Homo sapiens: one gene and its partners. The protein of the gene in region 1 purifies or fractionates together with the protein of each later gene. This does not show direct contact. Each region holds a gene or a part of one and is shown on either strand. Other genes may lie near its edges.

Region 1 (3,902 bases):
CTCACCTTCCTCCAGAAATTTCCCTCTCCTCTCCATGTCTGCCTTGGTGATCAAAACCTACAGCACTCCACCCCTCCTTGGAGCCCACAGTACTCACTGGTGCCCACCCCAGGGATCAGGAACCCAGCCTTTTGCAGCCTCTCATGGGTGGAAGATGCACCGGCACAGTCAGACTCGACCACCCTTGAATCTGGATCAGGTGCAGGCAGTGCATGCCCCACCCGGGGATGCCCCCTCAACTCTCTAGCCTGGTCCTTTATGATAATGTAAGTTTTAGAGAAAAGAAGTGGCTCCCGACTCCTGTTTGAGTTTTCTCAAGTGCCTTGTACTTATTTGGCACTAACTGGTGAGTTCTATTTTTAGTCACCAGCTTTGTGTGACATAAGAAAGTCACTTCTCTGGACCCATCTGTGACAGAAGACACAAAAATTCTGTGTTTGCAGAATAATTAAAAACCAACAAGACCTTTTCAGAGTACTCATACCTGTCCTTTTTTTTTCATGAGCACAGTATCTTATTATAGGACGAGTCAAGCAAGAATTCTCCCCATTTTACAGATGGGTCATCCAAGCCCAGAGATATCAAGTGATGTTTCCAAATAGAAAATGAAGTCCTAGGCCTTTCTAGAGTTTGCAGGTTGGGACCCACCTGGTCTACCTCCTCAAGTAACATGGACTGAAGCTAGCAATGTTTGTGACCCAGCCAACGTCTTGTAAGGTTGCTAGTGACTCCCTGTCCTTAGCACTTCCTTGGCCTCCTCTACAGCCAGTGAACTACAGTGGTAAAATTAGGACACAGGTGTGCTGAGTCAAGGCTGCCTCAGTAGTGTTAGGATTCTCAGCAAGAAGCGACCCAGAACATCCTTGGAGCGTGATGCCTAAAAGATCAAGGAGCAGGCAGCTGCAGAGTGTGGTAACTAGTTGCCCTGGTGTTTATCCTGAAAATACTGAGTATGTCTGAAAGGCAAAGGGGAAAATAGATCCTGAGAAGCACTAAACTCTCCTTGAGCATCAAAGGTGCTTATTTCTTTTTTTCTTTTAATTTATTTTTTGAGACTGAGTCTGGCTCTATCGCTCAGGCTGGAGTGCAGTGGCACGATCTCGGTTGACTGCAACCTCTGCCTCCTGGGTTCAAGCGATTCTCGTGCCTCAGCCTCCCGAGTAGCTGGGATTACAGGTGCCTGCTACCATGCCCAGCTAATTTTTATACTTTTAGTAGAGATGGGGTTTCACCACATTGGACAGGCTGCTCTCGAACTCCTAACCTCAAGTGATCCGATCCGCCTGCCCCAGCTTCCCAAACTGCTGGGATTATAGGCATGAGCCACCGCTCCTGGCCGAAGGTGCTTTTTTCTTCATGGAATGGTAAACGCCAAACATTTGGCCCTAAAACTCAAGACTCAAAACTCCACAAACTACTGTTTAGTAGTTTTCTAAAGTTCTACTACAATTAATGGGGACTGCTCAAAAGGCAATAGAGTTTATACGATGATGGTCCCAATTTAGCATATACTCAGAATTTACCTTATGTCTTTTCACTATTCTGTTATGAAAGACAGCATGGTATGTCAAAAACACTTCTGAAATACCATGGAGTTACTTAAAAATAAGGTGGTAGATCCATATATGTACATATTTTTGAGACAGTGTCTTGCTCTGTCACCCAGGCTGGAGTGCAGTGATACAATCATGGCTCACTGCAGCCTCAGCCTCTCAGCTTCAACCAATCCTCCCACCTCAGCCTCCCAAGGAGCTGAGACTACAGGCATGCGCCACCATTCCCGGCTAATTTTTAATTTTTTTGTAGAGATGGGGTCTTCCTATGTTGCCTGGGCTGGCCATGAACTCCTGGGCTCAAGCAATCCTCCTGCTTTTGCTTCCCAAAGTGCTGGGATTACAGGTGTGAGTCACTGCCCTGGGCCTAGATCCATATCTTTTGACCAACGAGATGGTCATTAATAAAATACCATGGGTATTTTATTAAGTGCAAAAAGGCAAATTATAGAGGAATTATCTACAGATAATTTTTAAACACTTTACATCAATATAATACTTTTAAAAACAGAAATGGATGTGGATCTATTTCTAAATATGAAAATACAATACAAACGTAATGGTGAATGACTCACACATAAACGAAACATCCAGACAAAAACAAAAGTCCATGTGGGTTCTACCAATTTTTCAAGGAACACACTCAATTCCTATTTTTTTTTCAGAATACAGAACAACAGCAAAAGCTGCCCAGTTCATCTGATATGTCCAGTATAATACTGTTTCCAAAATTAGATGAGAATAATTCAAGAAAAGGTTCATTTCATTTATGAATACAGTTGTCTAACTTGAGTAAAATATTTATTACCTAAGTCCAATAGTGAATTCAAAAAATACATCATGATGATCAAGTAGGGCTTTTCCCGGGCCTGCCAGGATGGCTCAGCATCAGAAAATCCATCACGAAAGATGTCCTGGGATCAGGCCACCGTGAGCCCCAGTGCCTTACTGTTCTTGAACTCAGAAGGAGCAAGAGTGAGCAGCATGGTGATAAAGTTTTATAATTAAACAAAAATGAAGACTAGGTTCGACCACAGAATGCCGGTGCTATTGTTATTTGAAAACCATGCTCTCCAGGGCTGAAATCTTCAAGGTAGTTGAGGCTTCTAGGGTGATATGAGATGATCAAGGACACGTTGGGAGAGTTCTAGCTTTGCCACTCTCTGTGTGGCCTTGCCCCATCTATTTAACCTCTGTCTGTAAAATGAGGGGTGGGATAGGTGAGCTCTGAGATCCCTTTGCCTGAACCAGTCTTTAGATGTAACCACTTCTTTCCTAGGTTGGAGACGGATTCTTACAAGTCCCGCGTCACGGAGCCTATACTCGAGGCCGTGCTTGGTAATTCTTTCCCACCTGTTGCCCCATCAGTGTCCAGCTACCTCTCTGAAGGAACCACAGCTTTCCCAGGGGGCAGGGGCCCTCTGGGAGGCCTCATGGCAACCCTTCCCCGGCCGTCCCCGCCCAGCACTCACCCGTGCAGTTCCTCTGCTGCACCAGCATCTGCTTCAGTTCGCTGAACTCGCTGGAGCCTTCCGTGGACTCCTCCAGCGTGTTCTCTGGCTCCTGCATGTCCAGGTCTGGCTGTTCCCCACAGGGGTCACCCAGCTCTGAGTCCTGGAAGCCGTGCTCTTCCACCTGTCCCATCAGGGGCTCAGGTGTCTCCAAACTTTCTGAGCCCTCGTCGTTGGTCTGTACCTCGATCTTAATCACGATCCCATCGTGCGCTGAGAGAGGGTGGGCAGGGGTGAGGAGGAGAAAAGAACCCAGAATGTTCATGCCAACTGCCCAGGTTTCTGCAGCCCTACAATTTACATCTCAATAAGTCTTATCTTAGAGACCCTGAAGAAATGTAATATTGAGTTGGAAATGAGTAGACACAGAATTTTCTGGACACCTTGTAGCTTTGAATACCAATACAAACTGTAGTCAAGTTAAAATAGATGCAAAGTTTGTTTTCCATGAGCTCCATAATTAAAAAAAAATATTCAGCATTGTCAGGGTTTATTTTTACTCTTATTTTTTCAATAGAGAAAGGTCTCACTCTGTCACCCAGGCTCGAGTGCTGTGGTGTGATCATAGCTCACTGCAGCCTTGAACTCCTGGGCTTACATGATCCTCCCATCTCAGCCTCCCAAAGTGCTGGGATGACAGGCATGAATGAGTCACTGCGCCCAGCCAGGGTTTATTTTAAAGAGATGCTCATTCCCTTTCTCAGTCAGACCAGCCAACCGGTACAGTTAACACAGTTTCTCTCTCATCTGCTCACTCACAATCAGGTCGATGAAGAAAAGGCTACCTCCTGACCACTCCCACCCTTCGGCCCCATACCCTGAGGTGTCCAAAAAACAC
Region 2 (3,900 bases), on another chromosome or scaffold:
TAGGTTCAAGGGTGGTAACTGAAGTAAAAATCAAGGCAGCTGTGATTTGGGGGAGACAGTTAAGAACAAGCCAGGATGACATGAAGAGAATTTTGTTTTGATGGGAACAGGCACAGGTTTTGAAGGAGACCCTGATCCAAACTGAGTGGAGAGAGCTTAACTCATAAACGAGCAGGAGTCGGGCTTTCACAAGGTTTACACCAATCATCATTAACCCCAACGATGTGGGATGCTTCTGGGTCCTCAGATCGCAAAGGGACTGAAGGATTTTGTTTCCTGATTGAAACAGGCCTCCAGACAGGCACTTCCTGAATGCCTTGCGCTGGCTGAGCCAGTCCTGAAGATACACAGTGAAACAAGGAAATGAGAAATGTGGACAAGGCAGGGGAGGTTAGGTACAGCAAAGTCTATTCCACTAAAATCTTAGACTGGGCGTGGTGGCTTATGCCTGTAATCCCAGCACTTTGGGAGGCTGAGGCAGGCAGATCACTTGAGGCCAGGAATTCCAGACCAGCCTGGCCAATATGGTGAAACCCCGTCTCTACCAAAAATACAAAAAAATTAGCCAGGCGTGGTGGTGGGCGCCTGTAGTCCCAGCTACTCGGGAGGCTGAGGCAGGAGAATTGCTTCAACCCAGGAGGCAGAGGTTGCAGTGAGCCAAGATCGCGCACTCCAGCCTGGGCAACAGAGCAAGGCTCTGTCTCAAAAAAACAAAACAAAACAAAACAAAAAAAACAACTCTTAAATCTGACAGTGTTCCTCCCCATTTTTTTTTAACTATGAAATGTCCTTTAAAAAAAAATGAGAACAAAGGAGAGAGTAGCTGAGGACTTATTATTATTTTTTTTAACATCCTTATTTTAATAAGTTAAACAACTGGTTGCTGTATTGTGGGTGTGTATAGGTGAGTGGTTATTACTGACAAGGAAAATCGTAACATCTGGATAGAATGACCATGGTCCTGTTGGTCTTGGCTTCTAAGATGTGGTCATGGTCCTTAGACTATGAGGTCCTCGATGCGGGGGATACACTGCCCGCTGTGGGCATCTAGGAATGCGTGGGGGTGTTCCAGGTTGTCACAAGGACTGGGGGCACTCGTGACACTCAGAGGCACAGGCCAGGGATGTGAAATGTCTTGTGATTTGCAAAGCAGTCCTGACAAGAAAGTACTGTCCAGTCCCAAAGCCCAATGATACCCCTTTTCCCAGCTAGGAAGCATTAGCCAGGGGGTGGGGGTTGCCCTATCTGGCCCCCAGGGGCCACGGCTTCCCCTTCCTTTCCTGTCTTTGCAGTCACTGGACATCAGAGGGCACTGCCACTCCAAGGACATGAGAATAAGTATCTCCCATACCAGCCACCCTCCTCCATGAGCCATTCTGGTCCATCTCTGAAACAGGAAGGTTGTTTATACTTGCTCTGCTTTGAATCCTTGTTAATAGATAGTAATTTTTTTCCCCTAAAAGCTTTAATTGACAAACTAAAAGCATATTGCATCCATAATTTTGACACTGTTTTTTACAGGACATGCCCATAAAATCTGAGAGTCTGAGCCCTGCTGGTCTCTAGCATGAACAAAGAGCTTTAAACCAGAGGCTTGATAAGAAACTTCACGCTGCCCCCAACCCTCCTCCTTTCCCTCACCAGGATCCCAAGCCATCCTGGTCTCAGACTCAGCTCTTACCTGTTTCTGGCTCTGCTGGGTCCTTTTCCATGGGTTCTGAAGGTGTGTCTTGGAGCTTTTTCTTCTGTGGGGCTGTGCTGGAGAAGACGCCAACTGGAGCCCACTCCAGATAGAGGGGGACATGATGGAACTGCAGAGACAAGAGTGATGGCCCTGTGGGTCTTCATTACAACACACTGCTGGGGAGGGACTCAGTCCCATGCAGATCACAGCCCAAGGGTCACAGAGGATGGGCAACTCACCCAAGAATGGAGCCGGAAGGAGCCCAGCCCAGAGCCCTGACTGCTGTCTACTCCCTGAGGACAACATTCGGCCCCCATGCTGCATCTCAGGGTGCAGGAGAGAGGCTTTAGTCTCTGTTGCCACCAGACATATGGCAGCTCCCAGGCCCCCTTTGTGTTTTTTCCAATCAGAGTATGAAACTCTAAAGTTTCATACTTTAGATGGGAGTGGGACGAGGAGCGACCACATCACTGGTAAAGTGCAGCTCTCCAGGAGGAAGTGTAAAATACCCGTTAAGAGAACACACTTTCTCTCTATGTGCATATATCCACGGGCAACACCTGTATACGTGTGCATATGTGTGCATGCAGATGTTATTTTTTTAAAAGGATAGCTGGGCATGGTGGCACACACCTGTAGTCCTAGCTACTCAGGAAGCTGAGGTGGGAGGATCCCTTGAGCTCAGGAGTTTGAGGCTGCAGTGAGCTAGGATTCTGCCACTGCACTCCAGGGAAATCCTGCCTCTTAAAAAAAAAAAAAAAAAAAAAAAGAGGGGCCCTGGGCAGGCGGGTGATAAACAAGACACTGATGACACCTGCCTCATTAGGCGGTTACTGGGGAGCTGCAGGACAGGGGTGGGAGTGAGACTTGTCAACAAATGCCCTTTTTGAATCTTTTCAAATTTCCTACTCCATGAAAGCCTTGCAAATCAGTTATTTTCAGAGAAATACACATGCTTCAGAGTGAAACAGATTGGTGTGCAGACAGCAGGCTGCATCACTACTTAGCTGTGTGATCGTGGGTCAGGGCACCTCTCTGGGCATCAGTTTCCATATGTGCAAAATGAAGACAGCAGTCTTCTTGTCGGTGAAACAGACACTGCCCAAAACAGGAGGCCTCACCTAGTCAGTGTTCTCCAACTGTGGCTCACACAGAGAGAGCTTTTGGTGACTGGCATGTCCTCCCAAAGCAGAAGGAAGAAAGGATGGTGTCACATTCCAAAGGATGCTCACATCTCAGTCATGGGGCCCCACCTAGATAATTTTTCTTATGGGTCAGGCGCAGACTGACTTCCTGAGAGCTTAGTGGCCACAGAGTCCCAAGCTAAAGACTATTACGGGGTTAAAGTGGCAGAGAATGAGAAATCATTTCCTCACCAGCAAAATGGGGACATGAATATCTATCTCTAAGAATTGCTGGGGGGCATATGAATACCTATCTCTAAGAATTGCTGGGGGGGACATGAATATCTATCTCTAAGAATTGCTGAGGGAGACCAAGGTCTGCGAAGTGCTAAAGTGTCTTATAAACAGAAAATACTTGTAGTGGCACCGCAAGGGTATGTCTATATCTTGAACCCCTAGAAACCTGTGAACGCGCCCTTATTTGGAAAAAGGATCTTTGCAAATTTCATTAAGTGAAAGATTTTGAGATGAGATCATCTTGCATTATCCCGGCAGAGCCTAAATCCAATGACAAGTGTCCTTATAAGAGAAACAGGGAGGAAGACTGAGAGAAGAGGAAAAGCCAAGTGAGGATGAAGGGAGAAACTGGAGTGATGCAGCCATGGGCCAGGGATGCCTGGAGCCACCAGAAGCTGGAAGAGACACAGATCAGACTCCCTAGAGCCTTCAGAGGAAGCACAACCCTGCTGACACCTTGATTTCAGACTGTGGCCTTCGGAACCGTGGGATGATCTATTTCTGTTGTTTCAAGCCAACTAGCTTGTAATAATTTGTTATGACAGCCACAGCCAGCAAACTAATACACAACTGTTGGCTTTTTTCTAAACCAAGAACCAGGAGACAGCCCCACCTACAGAACTGACTTTCATTCATCTCATTGTAGCTACAGGATTACAAAAGCATCAAGAATGCTCATTCTTGGGCAAAATAGGGAGACCTTTGTCTCTACAAAAAATCAAAAAATTAGCCAGGCGTGGTGGTGCATGCCTGTAGTCTCAGCTACATGGGAGGCTGAGGTGGGAGGATTGCTTG
Region 3 (3,900 bases), on another chromosome or scaffold:
TGCTTTTTTTAATATTATAATTTTAATTATATATTGATATAAGAATAAGATAATAAATATAAATTTCTTTTGTTAATAAGACAGTATGCTAGTCTATAGAGCTTTAAGCTTTAGTAAACAACAGCATTTATTATGCACGTATTTACAAAGCAGTATGTATGTTACATATATTGTCTTTAAATCTCAAAGTAATCTTAGATAAGTCACAAATATACATTCATTGACTTACAAATGTTCTGCATTCTCTAGTAAGGTCAGTAACAGTTATTCATGAATAAATTAGTGAAGACTTATATACAATCATCTCACAAAAAAAGGTAATAATCATTAGAAAATAAAGTTATAAATCTCCCATAAAAGCTATGATAGGAATCTGGTGAAAATAAACAGCACAGTCATGAAGTATGGTCTTCTGGGGCAAGTTTTTAAACCTTATTCCAGTAACCCCCACCACCACCACCACCATACACAGTGTACTTTTACTCTTTCAGATTGATCTCAATTCTGAATCTAAAGGCCCAAATGAATTCATGTATTTATCAAATGAGCCAATCATCCAACTCTTCCCAGCCCATGGACTACAAGGCTTAATGGTTTTAACTTCACAGTCTCACAGGATATTCTTGTGAAAACTGTCAAATAGTACATACCTGTTTTAAAAAGGTTTATAAGTCTGTGAATTGATAGAAAAATATAAAGCAGAGTTTCTCTTGGGAGGCCAAGGCGGGCGGATTACGAGGTCAGGAGATCGAGACCATCCTGGATAACACGGTGAAACCCCATCTCTACTAAAAATACAAAAAAATAGCAGTGCATGGTGGCAGGCGCCTGTAGTCCCAGCTACTTGGAAGGCTGAGGCAGGAGAATGCTGTGAACCCAGGAGGCAGAGTTTGCAGTGAGCCGAGATTGCACCACTGCACTCCAGCCTGGGCAACAGAGCGAGACTCCATCTCAAAAAAAAAAAAAAAGAAAAAGTAAAGAAAAAAAGAAAAATGTAAAGCAGAGTTTCTCTTTGGGATTGTGAGATATGTGATGAGGCCTCATTTTTTGCAGTCTATAACACAAAATATAAAACAATACTTCACATCTGGAGGCTATACAAGGATAAGGAAGCTCTTAAAAATATATTTAAAAAATAGTTAAACATAATCTACTACATATAAATTCCACATCTGTAATACATAATATACAGTTCCAAAATATAATCCTGTTACATTATTAAACTTGAAAAGAAATTTAAATTTTAAAAGTACAGGCAGGGCACAGTGGCTCATGCCTGCAATCCCAGCACTTTGGAAGGCTGAGGTGGGAGGATTGCTTGAGGCCAGGAAATCAATAACAGCCTGGGCAACACAGTGAGACATTGTCTGTATAAAAAAATTATAAAAATTAGTCAGATGTGGTGGCACACACTTGTAGTCCCAAACACTTGGGACGCTGTGGCAGGAGGATCACATTAGCCAAGACTTTGAGGCTGCAGTGAGCTATGATTATGTACTGTACTTGTAGTCTGGGCCTTATCTCAAAAAATAAAATAATAAAAATAAAATTAGAGTACTAAAATTATATTACTTAAGAATCACTTAATAGGCCAGGCCCAGTGGCTCACACCCAGTGGGATTCCTTAAATCCCAGCACTTTGGGAGGCCGAGGTAGGAGGACCTCTTGATCCCAGGAGTTCCAGACCAGCCTGGGCAATATGGCAAAATACCATCTCTACAAAAAATTTAAAAATTAGCCAGGCATGGTCACCCATACCTGTAGACCCAGCTACTCAAGGGGCTGAGGTGAGAGGATCACTTAAGCCTGGAGGCCAAGACTGCAGTGAGCTGTAATTGTGCTACTGCACTCCAGCCTGGGCAAGAGAGTGAGATTCTGTCAAAAAAAAAAAAAAAAAAACACACAGTAAAATGACAAATTCTATACTTCATCATTAAATCAGAAATCAGTAGACATATAATATAGCCAATTATAAAATTGGAATAAAAATATATACACCTAAGCCCCAAAGACCATCATTAGTTTAAAAGGAGTTTGTTGGTCCAGGTGAGTTGGATTGATCAAGCACCTAATTACTTTCGGCTTTCTCAATCTATGTGGAATGTGTGGAGTATCTAAAATTAGTAATAAAGAGAAAAATGACATCACAACTATTAAGAAAACAATGTATAATACAATTAAAGTGAAACAATTACAAGCAAAGTAATGCTACTTTCAAACCAAGGCACTAACCTTACTTCTTTAGTGAGCTATCTACTTAAAATCTCACTGTTAAATTTCTTTAGCCAAAAGATGATTCTGAAAAGTGAAACTATATGCCAGGAGTCTTATAAATGCTATTACTCCATTTAAGTACATTTAAGAGTAAAATATCAGTTGCCTTTCTAATAAGGTAATAACCAAAATGAACAATCATATTAATGGCATCAAGCATCCCTAAAGAGTAACACAGCTCATTTGAGGAAAAAAAAAAAAAAAAAAAAAGTATGTGTGTGTGTTTGTGTGTGTGGTAGATAAGTAGATGATGTACTATGAAACCAAACTAGCTCTTCCTCTGGAATTTTTTTCCTTGCTTTAAAACAATTCCTCCTCAGTCTACATATTCAAGGTTTCTTTGACAGTAGAAAGTAACAGTGTTTCAAAGTGAAGTCAATGATTGTTATTATTTTTTACCCTCCTGAAAACAATAACCATGTACACTAACAGAATACATATCTTTATATACAACCAGGCTTCAACGTCACACACTTGCAAACTAAATAAACAAACATAATGTAAATAAAACCCTGGATCAATACTTTCTAAAAAGAAAGAATAACATATTATATAGCCATACATTGTTACATACAAAAAAGCAAGACTAGATTTTTCACCTAAACTAGAAGATGAAAGAAATAATTCTTTACTTATATAAGTCAGTATATACTTAGGGTACGTTATCTTAAAATAAGTATTTTTTGTTGAATTACCATCACAATGTTTCAAGTACAATCGTGTCTGCTACATAATTAGAGAACAACTATACTCTAAATTCTAAATAATAACAATAATAATTTACAGGTGAGTTTCTCAGGGAAACTTATGCAGCCTTGTACACCTCAGTTGCTCATCCCAAAGGAAATGTCCTGTGATGTTACTGAAACTGTCAGCTAATATTTCCAATGCTCGTATGATCTATGTTAGTACTTAGGGAGCTCCTGAACAAAGTGAATGAAAAACTTCTTAACACATTTAAAACAACAGATGTGGAAGACTCAGAAAGATCAGGAGAACCTTCTGCTGTAAGTTCCACACGACTTCAGCCCACATAGTAAATTGTAAATGATTTCAAACCCTCTGCTCTCTCCTGAAACATCCAATCCCCAAACTCCTGTCATCCTTCCTCATAGCTGACGTCCTCATAAGGTACTTCCAAAAAAAAACTGAAATAAAAGACAAAAGAACTCCCTCCCACTTCCTTAACTCCACACTGACACTCTGCCATTCCTACTGTCACAACACACAGAGATCCTGTATCCTGTGATGGACCTTCAGCTCTCTTAATTTTGTTTCTGCTGGGATAATAATATATTCTGAAAGAGATGACAAATGACAGAGAAATTGAAAAAGTCCTCTGTCCAGAAACACTATCCAGTATATATTTATTTACAGTATTCTGTATATAAATAACCCTCAAGTTCACATCTATAAATCTAACCCCAACTTTTTTATAACCTAAAAAAAAAGTGAGATCTTTACCTTAACTATTCCAAACAGTCAAACTTTTCAAACTTCTTTGAGAGAGAGAAGAAACTACTAGAATAAATACAAAAGGAAAGGATTCCCCTTATAAATCAGTCACCAATCAGGGCTGATGATTTTCCCTTTCCAGTATTTCTCCCAGTCTCTCCCCCAAGTCTT
Region 4 (3,900 bases), on another chromosome or scaffold:
TTCACTTTTTTGGTGTGTTCTCTTTTAAGATTTTCCTTTGACCCATGTTTGTGCTTTTGTGGCTTTCCCCTATTGTTTTCCGAATTGGAACAGGACCCCTCAGAGTCAGAAGTTGATGTGCGCTGTTTGCTTGATTTCCAAGCACCATTATCATCAGGCAGTGAAGTATTTGTGGACGACTTGGTTGTGGGTTTGACTTTGATGTGAATTTCACTAACCTCTGATTCAGAATCGGATGTGGCCTCACCTTCTTCCTTGTCAGAGGATGGATGGGAGTCATTTTTACTGTTTTTAGTGACATCTCGTTCTGAATTTGACTCAGAGTCCCATTTACTACCAGCATAATTCTTCCTTTTGGGCTTACTGCCATTTCTAAGGTGATCAGAAAGATTCTCTTTCAAAGTTCTTTTTTTTGAATGAGGGCATTCCCGTTCAGACTTGGATTTTTCTTCACCTCTGTTTTTTTCTTGTTTATTATGTGTTCTTTCCATTTGGCCCTGCTTCTCTTTTTCCTGGGCTGACTGTGTGGCCTGAACACTTGACTGCTCACTGTCTGAAGAATAATCTAAAGATGATCTGCTCTCGCTATACTTTCTCACACATGAAGACCTGTCTCTACCTTTGACATATTTACTGTGAAGTGTCTTTTCAGAGCTGCTGCTATGCTTTTTATGTGAAACGCTATTTTTTTTCCCACTGGATCTAAGTCTCCTCTTAGCTCGCCTTCCATCATCACTGCTAATAGAAGTATATGAAGATGATCTACTACACTGTGAATGATCACTGTATTTATTTCGTGAATGAGATCTAGATGATGGAGACCTAGACCTTGAATGTGAACTAGCTAGACTACGTGATCTTGTATATGATCTGGAATAAGATCTACTCCTAGAAGATCTGCTCCTTGACCTTGGTGAGCTTTCTGAACTTCTATCACTGTATTTTGAATAAGTGCTCTGATCACTTTCCGAATTTTTTTCTCTTTTATGGTAGGATGATGAGCTACCAGTCTCTTTAATATTTGCTAAACTGTAAGTGCTTTGGATGGGTAGCAAATGGGTTGTTTTAGCTTTCATTTCCTGAATTCGCTCATAAGAGGGCTTCCAAGGTTTCTGTCCAGGCTTCCATCTTGAAGGGGGGGGACTGTCACTCAGTGGTATTACAGGAATATTTTCTGCTACAACTGGTTGTACTACTACATTTTCATTTTGTGCCATGGTTGCTCTTAAAGGTTCTGTTTTAACTGGTTTATTTTCACTTAACTGAGAAGCTGTTTTTCTTGGTGATTTTGATGCTCTCTTTCGGTGCCCAGACTTGGAACTAGATCTGGACTTTGATCTACTTCGAGAATGTGATGAGGACTTTGACGCAGTCCTTGATCTTGAGCTTCCTCTAGAATAAGACTGTGAGTGAGATTTTGATCTGTATGAGTCTCTGCTGGAATGGGTTAAAGAGCTCTGGACATCCTTATCAGATTTAGACCAGTCTCTCTTTGATGAGTGATGAGATGACAATGAGGAAGAACGAGAACTCCTTTCTCTATCACAAGAGGATTTCATTCTTCGAGTGGAAGATTTTGAGGATTCTATGTCAGACGGTATAAGAATCCTTCTCTTCTTTGTTTGTTTGTGTCTTCTGCAGTGTTTCTGCTTTTTCCCTTTCTTTTTATGCTTAACCTTTTTTTCTTTTCTGCGTTTTTTATGGTGGCCAGAGTGTCTTGCTGTACTAAGGTCTGAATAATATCCATTATAGGACCATGATCTGGATCTCTGAGACAAGCTTCTTTCATCCCATCGGCTTGAACAGGGGTCACTTAACCTATAGAAAGGACATAATATTCATGCGGTGATTTATAAGCATGTTTTCTACACCTTAAGACACAGCTTTGTTAACAACAAAGTTCTTGACCCCATTAACACTTTAAGCACACGCAGGAAGCGTGAATCAGAGTTATAGGCCTGGTCTTGTTATACTTTCAGAGACACACACTAAGAACTACTAACAAATTCACTTACAAAAGGATTTTTTTTTTAAGCTAAGCAAAGAACCTTACATTTGTTAGGAAAATGTTTTTGAAAAGCAAACCAACTAATCACAAGAACACTGCTGAACTCAAATCACAAGAGTTCCTGGCTGTTATCTGCTCACAACCCTCTGCCTCTAGGACAGTTTTTGAGGGTGAGTCAAACCAAGGTCTCAAACAATTTGTTGATTTTCTGAAGATGCAGGATAGCTGCTTGAAACTAGCATGAAGCTTGTTTTTTCTCCACCTCAGACAGGTAATCCAGATTTCCCCTAAGACTGTAAACTACTTAAAACAGAAATTGAGGAAAAAGTACACAAAAACAGATACAGGTTACAATCTGAGTGTTAATGTCAAGGCTCAGAACTGAAAGTCCTCAGCACCACTGTGTCTGAGCCGCTTCTACACAGCAGATGCATTCCTTTTCCTCCTTTTCACAATTCCAAACCACTCTGCAGGATGTCCCCAGAGAAAAAGAGAATACTACCATGGAAGATTACACAGGGTCCCATTAGTATATTTTTCACTAGCTATTCTGGGGCCTATCCCCTTCCTAAAATAAATATTCAACTGTGGGACATCACTGAAGGTAAGAGATGTGTACACTTCTAAAAAAGCAAGTCTCTGCGATCAACAGTCAACATGAACACCGAGTGCAGGTTTTCCTATTTACCAATGAACTCATCAGTGACCTGGCTGGCTAGGAAAGAATCTGCTATATAATTTCTAAGTCCTAATTATTTTTTTTTTTTTTTGAGACGGAGTCTCGCTCTGTCACCCAGGCTGGAGTGCAGTGGCACGATCTCAGCTCACTGCAAGCTCCACCTCCCGGGTTCACACCATTCTCCTGCCTCAGCCTCTCTAAGTAGCTGGGACTACAGGCACCCGCCACCACGCCCGGCTAATTTTTTGTATTTTTAGTAGAGATGGGGTTTCACTGTGGTCCCAATCTCCTGACCTCGTGATCCGCCTGCCTCGGCCTCCCAAAGTGCTGGGATGACAAGCGTGAGCCACCACGCCCGGCCTCTAAGTCCTAATTATTTCTAAAATTGACTAAGAGGTCATTAAAAGACACAGGCTTATAGTTTTTGTTAAGGAAAACAGGATTTTGATTTAAAAGCCCAACTAGTTAACAGTACTACTTTCATCAAGTAGTCCCAAATGTATTTCCTTTGGTCACAGTCTGACTGTGAATCTTTCACTGAATCTTTAATGAAAAGTCCAGAATTGTATCCAATCCCTTTAACATTTAAAATATAACAGACACAGGATTGTGCTTATACTCAAAGTTCTTACTTATCTCCTTTACTCCATTTTTCTCCACTAGGTGGTCTATATGCTCTTAATCTCTGCATTTCCTCTTTCCAGTGAGGAGGAGTTTCACTGCTGTCATCATCATCTGACTCAGAACAGGATCTTGATCTTGGAGGTGTGTGATAGCGCTTTAAAAACAAAAACAATAGTATTTTAAAAAATGCCTCTCCACGACAGTCTGCTATGTGACAGAGTTAAGTAAAAGACCCAATCTCAGATCATCCCATCAAAGGTAATGATTGAAGTTACCAAAAGGATGGTCTAAAGTTCTTTTTTTTTTTTTTTTTTTTTAGTTTTTAACTTTTATTTTAGGTTCAGGTGAAGTTATTTCAAACAAGGCATTAAAAGAGATGGGCAAGGCTGAGATTCACCTGTAATCCACATAAAATTTTCCTTTTTAAAGTCTTAATGATTTCTCAGCATACTCACTGATGGTTTCACATGTTCCTCCTTTCATACTCAATTAAACCCATTCAAACACAGCAGTATACTTTGATCTAACAGCAATACCTTCCCATAACCATGGAAAATACAATTAGTTCCTTGAACAGATTTTGTATTAT

What was found.
Region 2: the proteins of ZNF777 (region 1) and RBM19 purify together in Homo sapiens (affinity purification with mass spectrometry; one large-scale study listed by BioGRID and IntAct). This does not show direct contact.
Region 3: the proteins of ZNF777 (region 1) and PRKD1 purify together in Homo sapiens (affinity purification with mass spectrometry; one large-scale study listed by BioGRID and IntAct). This does not show direct contact.
Region 4: the proteins of ZNF777 (region 1) and NKTR purify together in Homo sapiens (affinity purification with mass spectrometry; one large-scale study listed by BioGRID and IntAct). This does not show direct contact.

What each region holds. Positions count from the first base shown.
Region 1 is NC_000007.14:149,433,550-149,437,451, forward strand, and holds part of ZNF777 (zinc finger protein 777), read right to left. Parts: intron 3,278-3,902; coding exon 3,026-3,277; intron 1-3,025. UniProt on the Homo sapiens protein: May be involved in transcriptional repression. Inhibits cell proliferation through CDKN1A/p21 induction by down-regulation of NIBAN1/FAM129A at low cell density.
Region 2 is NC_000012.12:113,935,326-113,939,225, forward strand, and holds part of RBM19 (probable RNA-binding protein 19), read right to left. Parts: intron 1,812-3,900; coding exon 1,682-1,811; intron 1-1,681. UniProt on the Homo sapiens protein: Plays a role in embryo pre-implantation development.
Region 3 is NC_000014.9:29,921,348-29,925,247, forward strand, and holds part of PRKD1 (serine/threonine-protein kinase D1), read right to left. Parts: intron 1-3,900.
Region 4 is NC_000003.12:42,634,786-42,638,685, reverse strand, and holds part of NKTR (NK-tumor recognition protein), read right to left. Parts: intron 3,466-3,900; coding exon 3,320-3,465; intron 1,819-3,319; coding exon 1-1,818. UniProt on the Homo sapiens protein: PPIase that catalyzes the cis-trans isomerization of proline imidic peptide bonds in oligopeptides and may therefore assist protein folding. Component of a putative tumor-recognition complex involved in the function of NK cells.